Homo sapiens: one gene and its partners. The protein of the gene in region 3 purifies or fractionates together with the protein of the main gene of each other region. This does not show direct contact. Each region holds a gene or a part of one and is shown on either strand. Other genes may lie near its edges.

Region 1 (3,750 bases), on a different chromosome or scaffold from region 3:
GTCACTGCACTAATAGTTTTTTCTGGTTTAAGTATACATTACATTCCTTTACACCTTATTATTTATTTATTTATTTAGAAACAGACCCTCAGTCACCCAGGCTGGAGTGCAGTGGTATGATCTTGGCTCACTGCAACCTCCACCTCCAGGGTTCAAGCGATTCTCATGCCTCAGCCTCCCGAGTAGCTAGGATTACAGGTGTGTGCCACCATGCCTGCTAATTTTTGTATTTTTAGTAGAGATGGGGTTTCACCATGTTGGCCAAGCTCATCTCGAACTCCTGACCTCAAGTGATCTGCCCGCCTCGTCCTCCCAAAGTCCTGGGATTACAGGTGTGAACCACCATGCCTGGCCCCTTTATACTTTAGATACTATGAGCAGTAATATAATATCTATACTGGTGGAATAGTTGATATTCATTAGATTGAGATACAAAGAATATGATGTTGCTTTATCTTTTTGGTATGTCTGAATAATTGTAGTTTGAGAGAAGCAGTTTTTTTTTTTTTTGAAATGGAGTCTTGCTCTGTCGCCCAGGCTGGAGTGCAGTGGCGCGATCTTGGCTCACTGCAACCTCCATCTCCCAGGTTCAAGCGATTCTCCTGCCTCAGCCTCCCAAGTAGCTGGGATTACAGGCACGTGCCACCACACCCAGCTAATTTTTATCTTTAGTAGAGACGGTGTTTCGCCATGTTGGCCAGGCTGGTCTTGAACTCCTGACCTCAGGTGATCCACCCACCTTGGCCTCCCAAAGTGCTAGGATTACAGGCATGAGCCACTGCGCCTGGCTGAGAAGAGCAGCTTTAAAGTACATCATAATAATGGTGGGTGTTTCCTTCAGTTAGGAAATGAGCATTTTGCTATGATTTTTATTTTAAAAAAGAGATGGAGAATTTTTGAAGGTATCCTTATATAATGATTTATCTGCACATGTATCATTATTAATGTATCAAAGGAAAATGGAAAGTGACATGTTGATTAACTAGATTTGATTAATTTGATTAATTAGATTTCTTCCAACTCAGTGACATTTGTAACACGTGACAGGTTGCTTGATAAAGGGTAACATTTCTCTTACAAATGCTACTTTTGTTATTTTTTTTCTTTTGGTGATCTGTGCTGTCATTTGCATGTTAGTAATCTGATTTTAAGAATTTTGTATTTTGGGGAACATAACCATGTTAAAAGACAGTTTATTTTAGTACTGAAAGAAAATAGTTACTTTTACTCTCATTTATTTAATTTCTGTTCATTTTTTCCCTGTATTTAGAAACAAAAAAAACATCACGAATCTTTCCCGCTTAGTTGTCCGCCCCCACACAGATGCTGTTTACCATGCCTGCTTTTCTGAGGATGGTCAGAGAATAGCTTCTTGTGGAGCTGATAAAACCTTACAGGTAAAACACATCTCTTGAGAAAAATGCAAAGAGGCATGTATCCAGTTTTGTGCAGATCAGAATATGTTTAAATCCTAAAATTCAAGAAAATTGCAACTTAGAAATAACAGAGGAATCCAGCTCTCTTGAACATTTTATTAAAGGTTTCTCTAGAGATTTAAAAGATACAGTTACATGTTTTCCTAATTCTAAACTTACAGGTGGTAAGGAAGTGCCCTTTACCCTGCCAGTCAGTTCCCAGCCATCCATTTGTCAGCTAAGGGTAGTGAGGAAATAATTGTTAGAAGACGTAGGGCTTCATAGCACAGGGAATAGGGCTGTGATTAAAAAACAGTGATTAGGAAAATACCTATTTTATCAAAGTCTTAGGCATAGGTTTTTTTCTTGTAAATAGGAACTGGACTAGACTATTTCCTAAGTTGTTTTAAAGAATTTCCTTTAAGATTCCCTTTGTTTTCAGAAAATATTAATGAGTACTTTTCTTTATGTTTGTGTTCTGCCTTTTGATTTTGCAGAGAACATGATGAAATTAGTTAAAACTTGTATTTAGGATACTTTTAGTCTTTGCAAGATTATGACTCCATAGCTTATGTCTATATGTGTACTTTATTACTAATTTTATTAATCTTGGCTTTTGAGTTCCAGAGAGAATGCATATTAAATGAAATGTTTTATTTGATTGTTAAGAATTTGCCAAAATAGTCTCAAGAGCTGAAGCTGTGCTCTGACACTTCTTTTTGATGGCAGCGGCGGGCTGCCTGGAGTGGCTGCTGCCATCATGCTGGCTGCAGCAGGGAGGCGCAGCTGGGGCTGCATGCTCTGTGGAGCTGGCGGTAGCTGGGGACAAGCAGGAACCCTACCCCTTCTGAATTGGGGCAGGAGCTCCTGGTTCCTGCTGTAGCCGCCCAAGCCACAGCTGTGGACCTGGGAACCCGCTCCATGGAGCAGGCCAGAGCCCTGCCCTCCTGGGTGTAGCTGTAGCCGCCCAAACCACAGCTGCAGGCTCGGGCCTCCGGCTCCACAGAGCAGGCAGGACCCCTTCCCCCTGGTGCAGCTGTAGCTGCCCAAGCGGTGGCTGCAGACTCAGGCATCCCTGTACTCTTGGGGGACCTGGAAGGACCCCCTGCCCTTGTAGGCTTGGAAGTGCCTGCTCCCGCTGCCTGACTTCTCCCTACTGTTGGCACCCACTCTGATCTTAGAGCAAAGCTGGGGCTGAGCCTGGGTGCTGTTGCAGCCCGGCCAGATGTGCACATGCTTGGGGCAGTGCTGACATGCCAGCCCCCTGCCGCCTCGGCCCCCTCCGGACTTTGGGTGCTGATGAGCATAGGAGGGAAGCCAAGGGGGTGCTGAGGGCAGTTTGATACTGGCCTGCAGGCTCCCCTTGGCACCTACAGCCTGGGTGCCATTCATGGCAGCAGGAGGCAGACAGGTTCCTGGGTGGAAGGGGGCGGGTCACCAATGAGGCCCCACCTTCAGGCCACAAAGGGCCTGAAGACTGGGGGCTGGGCTGCTGGTGTGGACTGAATGGACTGGAGTGGGAACTTATAGTGCCTTTTCCAGGCTTGCCCATGTCTGCCCATGGACCAGTTGGCATGTACTTCCTCCCTTCTGAAGCCCATAAAAGCCTCGGGCTTAGCCAGTGCTGAGCAGACACTGGGACAACCAGCTGCAGAGAGGAGCAACCCACTCTAGTGCCCCCTCTTTGCTGAGAGCTGTGCAGATGACAGGAGGACCAGCTGCAGAGAGGAGCTACCCTCTCTGCTGATAGCTGAACACTTGTCAGGAGGACTTGCCTAGCAGAGAGGAGCTACCCTCTCCTGAGCTGTGGAAAGGAGCTGCCCCCCGCAGGTTTATTGAGCTATTTTATCGCTCAATAAAGCTCCTGTTTGTCTTGCTCACCTTCCACCTGTCAGCGTACCACATTCTTCCTGGTTGTAGGACAAGAACTTGGGATCCCACTGAATGGTGAGGCTAAAAGAGCTGTAACACAAACAGGGCTGAGACATGCCCCTTGCTTGCCGCATTGCAAGTGAAGATAAGTAAAGAAAAGCTGCGGCCCTTCGGGGAGCCCAGACTTGGGAGCTCCCCAAGCTAGGGCTGTGACTCCCTCTTTGGGGCCCCGCGGTTCCTGGCATCTCCAAGCTTCTGGGCACCACCGTGTTCCCCGGTGCCAGCGTGTAAGCTGCTTGTGGTGTGCCTGGTCCAGCCACAGCCTCACAGAGAGCCAGAGCCCATGCTGGCACCTGGAGCTGCCTGCCCCGCTGCAGCAGTCAGCACGTCTGTGCGCAGTGGCTGGACCCCACGCTCACTCACACACGCCTCGCTGTTCCACGCCTGACTCGCCCTTGGCAGG
Region 2 (3,750 bases), on a different chromosome or scaffold from region 3:
CAAAGAATTAAAAGCAGGGACTTGAACAGATACTTGTACACCAGTGTTCATAGCAGCATTCTTCATAATAGCCAAAAGAGGGCAACAACCTAAGTGTCCACTGACAGATGAATGGATAAGCAAAAGAGGTATATCCATACAATGGAATTTTATTCAGCCATAAAAAGAATGAAGTACTGATATGTGCTACAACATGGATGAACTTTAAAACATGTTGAGTGAAAGAAATCAGACACAAAATATTGTATGATTCAATTTATATGAAATATCTAAATAGGCAAATCCATAGAGACAGAAAGTAGAATAGAGGTTACCAGGGGGTAGTGGGAGGGGAAAATAGGGAAACGGTGAGTTATTCTTTAATGGGTACAGAGTTTTTGTTTGGGATGATGACAAAATTTTGGGAATGATAATGGTTGCACAACATTGTTAATATACCTAATGCTACTGAATCGTACACTTAGAAATGGTTAAAATGGCAAATTTTATATCTATTTTACCACTATATATATATATGTACTATGTACAATATATGCATATAATACATCTCTCTCTTTCTCTTTCACACACACACACACACACACACACACACACTAGTAGATGTGGGGTAGGGCACCAGGCTCACTCATTGGTGAAAGGACCGGCCCCCACCTACTAGTCTCCTTGCACATGTGATTCACATCTGTGCCTCAGCAAAAACACAGTTTCTTACCAGTCTGAGTTCTCATGAAGTATCCAAACCATGAATGTTAAGTTTGCAAATGCATTTGTGCTTTTAATGGAGAAGGTCCCTTAATCCAAGAATGCCTATTCTTTGTCAGACCACTAGGCACTCAGGAAATAGTTATTTTAAATTACTTTGGGCTATGAAAGGACTTTTGAAGCTTGATACCAAAAGCAAAAATCACAAAGGCAAAGAATGACAGGCTTAACCACACAGAAACCCAAAACCGCTCTACAGCGAGTAACTCCATCCTCAAAATCAAATGGTAAATTAGTTGACAATGCGTTGCAATCTCTAATACAGGGTTTCTCACAGTGTGGTCTACATACCAGCGGTGCTCTGGGAGAGGAATTTTAGATGGTACATGGACAGAGAACTGAATCTTAAATAGTATGAACTTAGGCACTGCAGCAGGCAGCCACTCAAATCATGCCGTGTGAGTGGCCACCACCTCAGAAGCCAGGTCCAGGAATATACATTATGAAATTACTTGTTCTGAGACTCACTTAGAGAAGCACAAATAATTTTTTGCACAAATTTTTCTTGAAAACCTGATCTCTGAATCTATATCCTTCCCCTTTGTTACTATATTAATAGGGGATATTAAATGAATTAGCACACATAAAGCAATTAGAAATGTTTGCTATTTTTATCATTTTCTGAGCATTTATATATGGGAACCAGTTGGGGCCAGGTCAGAAGCTTAAAGGTAGAATCCTAGGGTTTTTAGAGCTGGAAGGGAAATCGGATTCAGAGTATTTCAGACCACACTAGCCAGGTACGCTCTGGGGTCAAAGGTAGAATAGAGCTGATTAAGAGGTTTTGGGTAAAATCTTAGAAAAAAATTTGAGGTTACAGCAACAGCAATCACAACGAATACTGTCAAAGCTCCTGTTACAGGTTGTTATACCTTACAGGTCAGAAAAATTAAGGAAGGCTCTTCAAATGTCAACTTGGGAAGCTTTTTCATATGCTACATTTAAATTGGAAACTTCTGCTGTTTGCCCAGAATATTCTATCTCCCTCCTAAGTTTTCCAGTATTAGAAGCATATTCAAATGACAAGGGGGAAGTCCCCTAACAACAGGGTGACCAACCATCCCAGTTTCCCTAGGACTGTTCCAGTTTGAGCACAGGCAGTCCTATGTCACAGGACTGGGATGGTTGGTTTCCCTACCTAATAAGGACATTTTGACCATTTGGAAAGGTTCTGAGCTCACATTTACCTCTGCTTCATAGACAATTCTTAAGTGTTACAAGAATTTCTTTAGCATTAGTTTAGTTACTGAGTGTTCTTAACAATTCTTTCTTCATAGACAATTCAGGCTCTGCTCTTCATTGTGAGGCATTGGGCAAGATACTTAATTTTTTCCAAGCCTCAATTTCCTTCTTTATAAAATGAAAATGGATGATAATAGTACCCATTTGGTCGGGCGCAGTGGCTCATGCCTGTAATCCCAGCACCTTGGGAGGCCGAGGCTGGTGGATCATTTGAGATCAGGAGATCGAGACCAGCCTGACTAATATGGTGAAACCCCATCTCTACGAAAAATACAAAAATTAGCCGAGTGTGGTGGCGTGCGCCTGTAGTCCCAGCTACTGAGGAGGCTGAGACAGGGGAATTGCTTGAACCCAGGAGGTGGAGACTGCAGTGAGCTGAGATCGTGCCACTGCACTCCAGCCTGGGCGACAGAACAAGACTCCGTCTCAAAATAAATAAATAAATAAACAAATAAATAAATAAATCCATTCCAAAGAGTTGATGTAAATATTAAATTAGATTATGCAGGTACATTGTGAATGTTCAAGAAGTGTTAGTTATTAATCTGTTATGGTTATTAGTTACATAATACAAGATTGAAAGGATGGTGTTTAAAATACACTTCTTCCCCAACCCAATTGTTTACAGGTACCATTTACATACCAACAGGCTGCATGCCCATTCTCACTGATTCGTATGTATATACACAGCACTATCAGGACTTCCATCAGGCTATGAGAGTTACTGCATGTGGTTAAAACGGAAGGAAAACAACTTTTAAACATTAATAAGGATTTTCTAGCACAGTATAAAGTTGTAAAATCTTTACAAGGGACCACGTCAATATTTAAGTAGTCATCCAACTGAAGAAACCTTTATTGAATATTGGCTGTATAACTAAAAGCCAAGGGAAAACCAAGCAAGTAAAACACAGCCCTACCCTCAAATTGCTTATACTCTTGTGTTCCAAGGAAACCAAGAACGAAGCTGGGAGCCAGGGACAGGTCAAAGCAGACAAACCAGATGTAAATCAAGAATGTGCCCTGCTCTTCTTCCTAAAAATATAGGAGCCCTCTTGGCAAAGGAATGGACTGCAGGAGGAGGGGTGGGAGACTAGCTTCTCCAGCAGGAGAGGCCTTGAAAGTTGACAAAGGAAAAAAGCACCCAACAGGAACCTGAAATGTCAAATCATTAAATTGAATAGAAGTAAAAACGATGGCTGAAGTATGATGATAGAAACCCAGGGAATTTAATGAAGTAACAAGGGATATGTTCACTTAGGAGAAGGCTGTCTACCCCAGATATTGGAGAAGCCCCATGACCAGCAATAATGGTCTTCTAGTTTGCTAATGAGCATGTCATACTGGGCAAAACCTAAACCGAATTCAGAATCCCCAGTCTCTAAGGTCCCAATTGTCAAGGAAAACAAGAGGGGATCAGTGGCTCATGCCTGTGATCCTGGCACTTTGGGAGGCTGAGGTGGGCAGGTCGCTTAAGCCCAGGAGTTTGAGACCAGCCTGCACAACATGGCAAGATCCCGTCCCTATAAAAAAAAAATACAAAAATTAGCTGGGCATGGTGGTGTGTGCCTGTAGTCCCAGCTACTTGGGAGGCTGAAGTGGGAGGATCGATGGAGCCCAGGAGTTTGAGGCTGCAGTGAGCTGTGATCATGCAACTGCACTCCAGCCTGGGTGACAGAGTGAGACCCTGTCTCAGGAAAAAAATAAATAAATAAAAATAAATAAAAGCAAGAGAATACTTTGTCC
Region 3 (3,750 bases):
GGCGTGGTGGCGGGCGCCTGTAGTCCCAGCTACTCAGGAGGCTGAGGCAGGAGAATGGCGTGAACCCGGGAGGCGGAGCTTGCAGTGAGCCGAGATCACGCCACCGCACACCAGCCTGGGCGACACAGCGAGACTCTGTCTCAAAAAAAAAAATTAGCCAGGCATGGTGGCACATGCTTGTAGTCCCAGCTACTCTGGAGGCTGAGCCAGGAGGATTGCTTGAGCCCAAGAGGTCGAGGCTGCAGTGAGCCATGATCACACCCCTGCACTCCAGTCTTGGCAACAGAGCGAGACCCTGTCTCAACAACAAAGCAAAATGGTCTGGGACAACTGGCTACTCACAGGTATGACATGGGACCTGCTCCCTTACACCATACACAAATTTAAGTCAAAATGGATCAAAGACTTAAAGGTAAGAAGCACTAAAACTATACATTTCTTAGAAGGAAATGTAGGTGTAAATTTTCATGGCCTTGAATTAGTCAATGGCTTCTTAAATCTAACATCAAAAGCATAAGCAACAAAATAGATGGACTTCATCAAATTTAAAAACTTTCATGCATCAAAGGACACTAACAAGAAAATAATGACAACCCACAGGAAAAAATATTTGTAAACTAAAGAAGTGATCAATATCTAGGATTCAGAACATATAAAGAACTTCTGCAACTCAACAAGATGACAACCCAATTTTTAAAATGGGCAAAGGATTTGAATAGATGCTTTGCTCACGAGGATATACAAATGGTTACTAGACATGAGAAGGCGCTCACCACCATTAGCCATCAGGAAATGCAAATCAAATGCACAATGAAATACCACTTTTTTTTTGAGGCAGGGTCTCATTGTCACCCAGGCTGGAATGCAGTGGCACAATCACGGTTCACTGCAACCTCAACCTCCTGGGCTTAAGTGATCCTCCCACCTCAACCTCCCGAGTAGCTGTGATTATAGGAGTGCATCACCATGCCTGGTTAATTTTTTAGTTTTCTGTAGAGATGAGGTCTCACTATGTTGCCCAGGCTGGTCTCAAACTCCTGGGCTCAAGTGATCCTCCTGTCACAGCCTTCCAAAGTGCTGGGATTACAGGCATGAACCACTCACTGTGCCCAGCCGAAACACCAGTTTCTACTCCAAGGAATGGCTAGAATCTAAGCGGCAGATAATAGCAAGTGGTGGTGAGGGTGTGCAGAACCTGGAACCCTTGGGCATTGCTGGTGGGGATGTGAACTGATGTAGCTGCTATGGAAAAGTCTGGCAGTTTCTCAGAAAGTTAAACACAGGGTCACCACATGACCCAGAAATTCTACTCCTAGGTATATATACCCAAGGCAACTGAAAACATGTTTACACAAAAGCGTGTACATCAGTCTTCATTGCAGCATTATTCACAAAAGCCCTGAATGGAAAAAACCCAAATATCCACCAGGATTAACAAAATGTTTATACTGATCCATATGATGGAATATGACTCAGCCATAAAGAAGAATGAGGTCCTGACACCTGGCACGACACAGGTGCATCTTGAAAACATTATGCCAAGAGAAGGAAGCCAGACAGAAAAGACTACACGGTGATTCCACGCCTGCATGGCGCCCACAGCAGGCCTGTCCAGAGACACACGGTGATTCCACGTCGGCATGGTGCCCACAACAGGCCTGTCCAGAGACAGGAAGCCCTTGCTGGGTGCCAGGGTCTGGGGAAGGGAGAACGGGGAGTGACTACTAATGGATATGGGGTTTCCCTTTGGGGTAAAAAACCGTTCTGGAACTAAACAGTAATGATGGTTGCACATGATTGTGAATATACCAAAAGTCAATGAGTTGTAGTGGAAATGATGACTTTTATCTCAAAACAAACATAAACTACTCACGTAAAAATTGTCTGCAAACTTATCTCCAGGCTCTGGCCTGCTCCTTCTTGCAAGGGGAGGGGAAAATGAAGGACCCCCTGACCAGGTCCTGGCCAGGCCCTCAGCTGGGGAGGCCCACCTGACACCCATGGTCCTTGAGGAACCAACGGTTTTAAGCAGAGCCTGACCTCCAGCCCCAGAGGAGCCCAGAGCCATCTCTGCCCCCCTCACAGAGGTGGGTCATTGGGGTTGAAGCTACTGCTCTTTGTGCAAAGCCTACCACATGCCAGGCAGTTGTGGGCATTTCTTCTGAGTCTCCCGGCCCCCTGGGAAGCTCCCCTGTTGGAGTGAAGCCCCAGGGCGCAGGAGGTGTGGTCCTGTCTGGCTCCAGAGGAAGGGGGCAGCCAGGCCTCCCTTCGAGGACCTGAGTTCTGATGGCTTGGGATGGCGTGAGGAGCTGCCAGCTCAGGTGGGAGCCTGGTAGATGAGACCTCCCTGACCTGGCTTCATCCTCTCATCACTGGGGTTGGCACAGCATGGCGGACTGACGGCCTTGTGGGCCTCACCTCTCCAAACCAACAGCCTTCCCTCACCAAGGACTCACCATGTGCCAAGGCTCCCTGCTGAGCCCTTACACACTTCACCTGGTGGAATATCCCCCACCACATGGGCAGGTACTGACCCCTGTGGGATGCGTTTTGAGCTTTGCTCAAGGCCAGCCTGGAAGAGACAGTGGGATCTCAGCCAGCTCTGCCCAGCTTCCACACTGTGCTTCTAATGCCTCTAATTCCCTGCCACCTGTGCTCCCGGAGCTCTGGACAGGGAAAGCTCTAGAAGTCAGGAGGGCATTCTGTGGGAATGCCAGTGAGTGTGGAGAGGGGAGAGGCATTTGTTTGGGGCAGGGGGTGCTGAGCCTCCCAAGGGTCCTACTGGCTTGGGGCACACACATGGCATCCTGGACACCAGGCTCTGGGTGTGTCTGGGGTGGTGGAGCCCTTTGACTCAGGAGGTAGGTGGAATGAGGCACCAGCTGGGTGCCATGTTTCCCTTTCCCACGAGTGCCCTCGGGGAGGTGGAATGGGAGCGAGCAGAAACCTGGGTACTGCTGGGCCACCTGCAGTCAGCAGCTCCCCTGCCTAGACCCCCACACGCCCCCATGACTCCATCTCCCACGACTCTGCTTGAGGCAAGGTCCCCCATCGCCAGCATTGGCTCTGTCCACTCCCTGCCTGAGGAGCCCTGTTCTTCCAAGGACCATGCAATGGTCTCACCTATGCCTCAGTGGGCCTGGGGGCCAGCATGAGGGGTCCCCAGAGCGGTGCCTAAGCCCCGGACTCACGGGCAATGACACGGGACCTCTGCCTCCCTGTCCCCCAACCTGGACGGCATGCCCCAGGACAACGGCTGTGCTCGGTTGGTGTTACTGCCGGGAGAGCCCAGCCCAGCCTGCTTGTGCTGGTGACATTCAGAGGTTTCAGGGGAACACCTCTGGAGGCTGTCCACGGCCCTGCTCTCCCTCCCATCCAGACAGGACTCCACAGGGGTGCTGGGAGGCAGATCCTTGCCAAAGATGCTAGGTGGGCAGACGCCCTTCCCTCCGACCACTGATGCCTCATTCCTGGGCCCAGCCAGGTGCTGGACTCCACCACCCCATGCCCCATTTATTAGGAGTGTACCGAGTGTCCACCGCTGGGCAAGAGACCTATGTGTATCCCCACCTTTAACCCCCAAAGCTTCTGAAGCAGGTGTTCATGTTCCCGGTGAGGAAACAGGTTCCAGGTGGACACGGCTGCAGCTCTCGGCTTATCAGGTGCTGCCCTGGACTCTCCCAAGGGGACCTTCAGCGCCCACCAGACAGGCACATCTAGACCGGTCTGCACCCCACATGTGGCTGTCCC

The links.
Region 1: the proteins of ENDOV (region 3) and APAF1 purify together in Homo sapiens (affinity purification with mass spectrometry; 3 studies listed by BioGRID and IntAct, with this or other methods). This does not show direct contact.
Region 2: the proteins of ENDOV (region 3) and TSC22D3 purify together in Homo sapiens (affinity purification with mass spectrometry; 2 studies listed by BioGRID and IntAct, with this or other methods). This does not show direct contact.

The regions. Positions count from the first base shown.
Region 1 is NC_000012.12:98,676,155-98,679,904, forward strand, and holds part of APAF1 (apoptotic protease-activating factor 1), read left to right. Parts: intron 1-1,270; coding exon 1,271-1,397; intron 1,398-3,750. UniProt on the Homo sapiens protein: Oligomeric Apaf-1 mediates the cytochrome c-dependent autocatalytic activation of pro-caspase-9 (Apaf-3), leading to the activation of caspase-3 and apoptosis. This activation requires ATP. Isoform 6 is less effective in inducing apoptosis.
Region 2 is NC_000023.11:107,769,153-107,772,902, forward strand, and holds part of TSC22D3 (TSC22 domain family protein 3), read right to left. Parts: intron 1-3,750. UniProt on the Homo sapiens protein: Protects T-cells from IL2 deprivation-induced apoptosis through the inhibition of FOXO3A transcriptional activity that leads to the down-regulation of the pro-apoptotic factor BCL2L11.
Region 3 is NC_000017.11:80,432,025-80,435,774, reverse strand, and holds part of ENDOV (endonuclease V), read right to left. Parts: intron 1-3,750.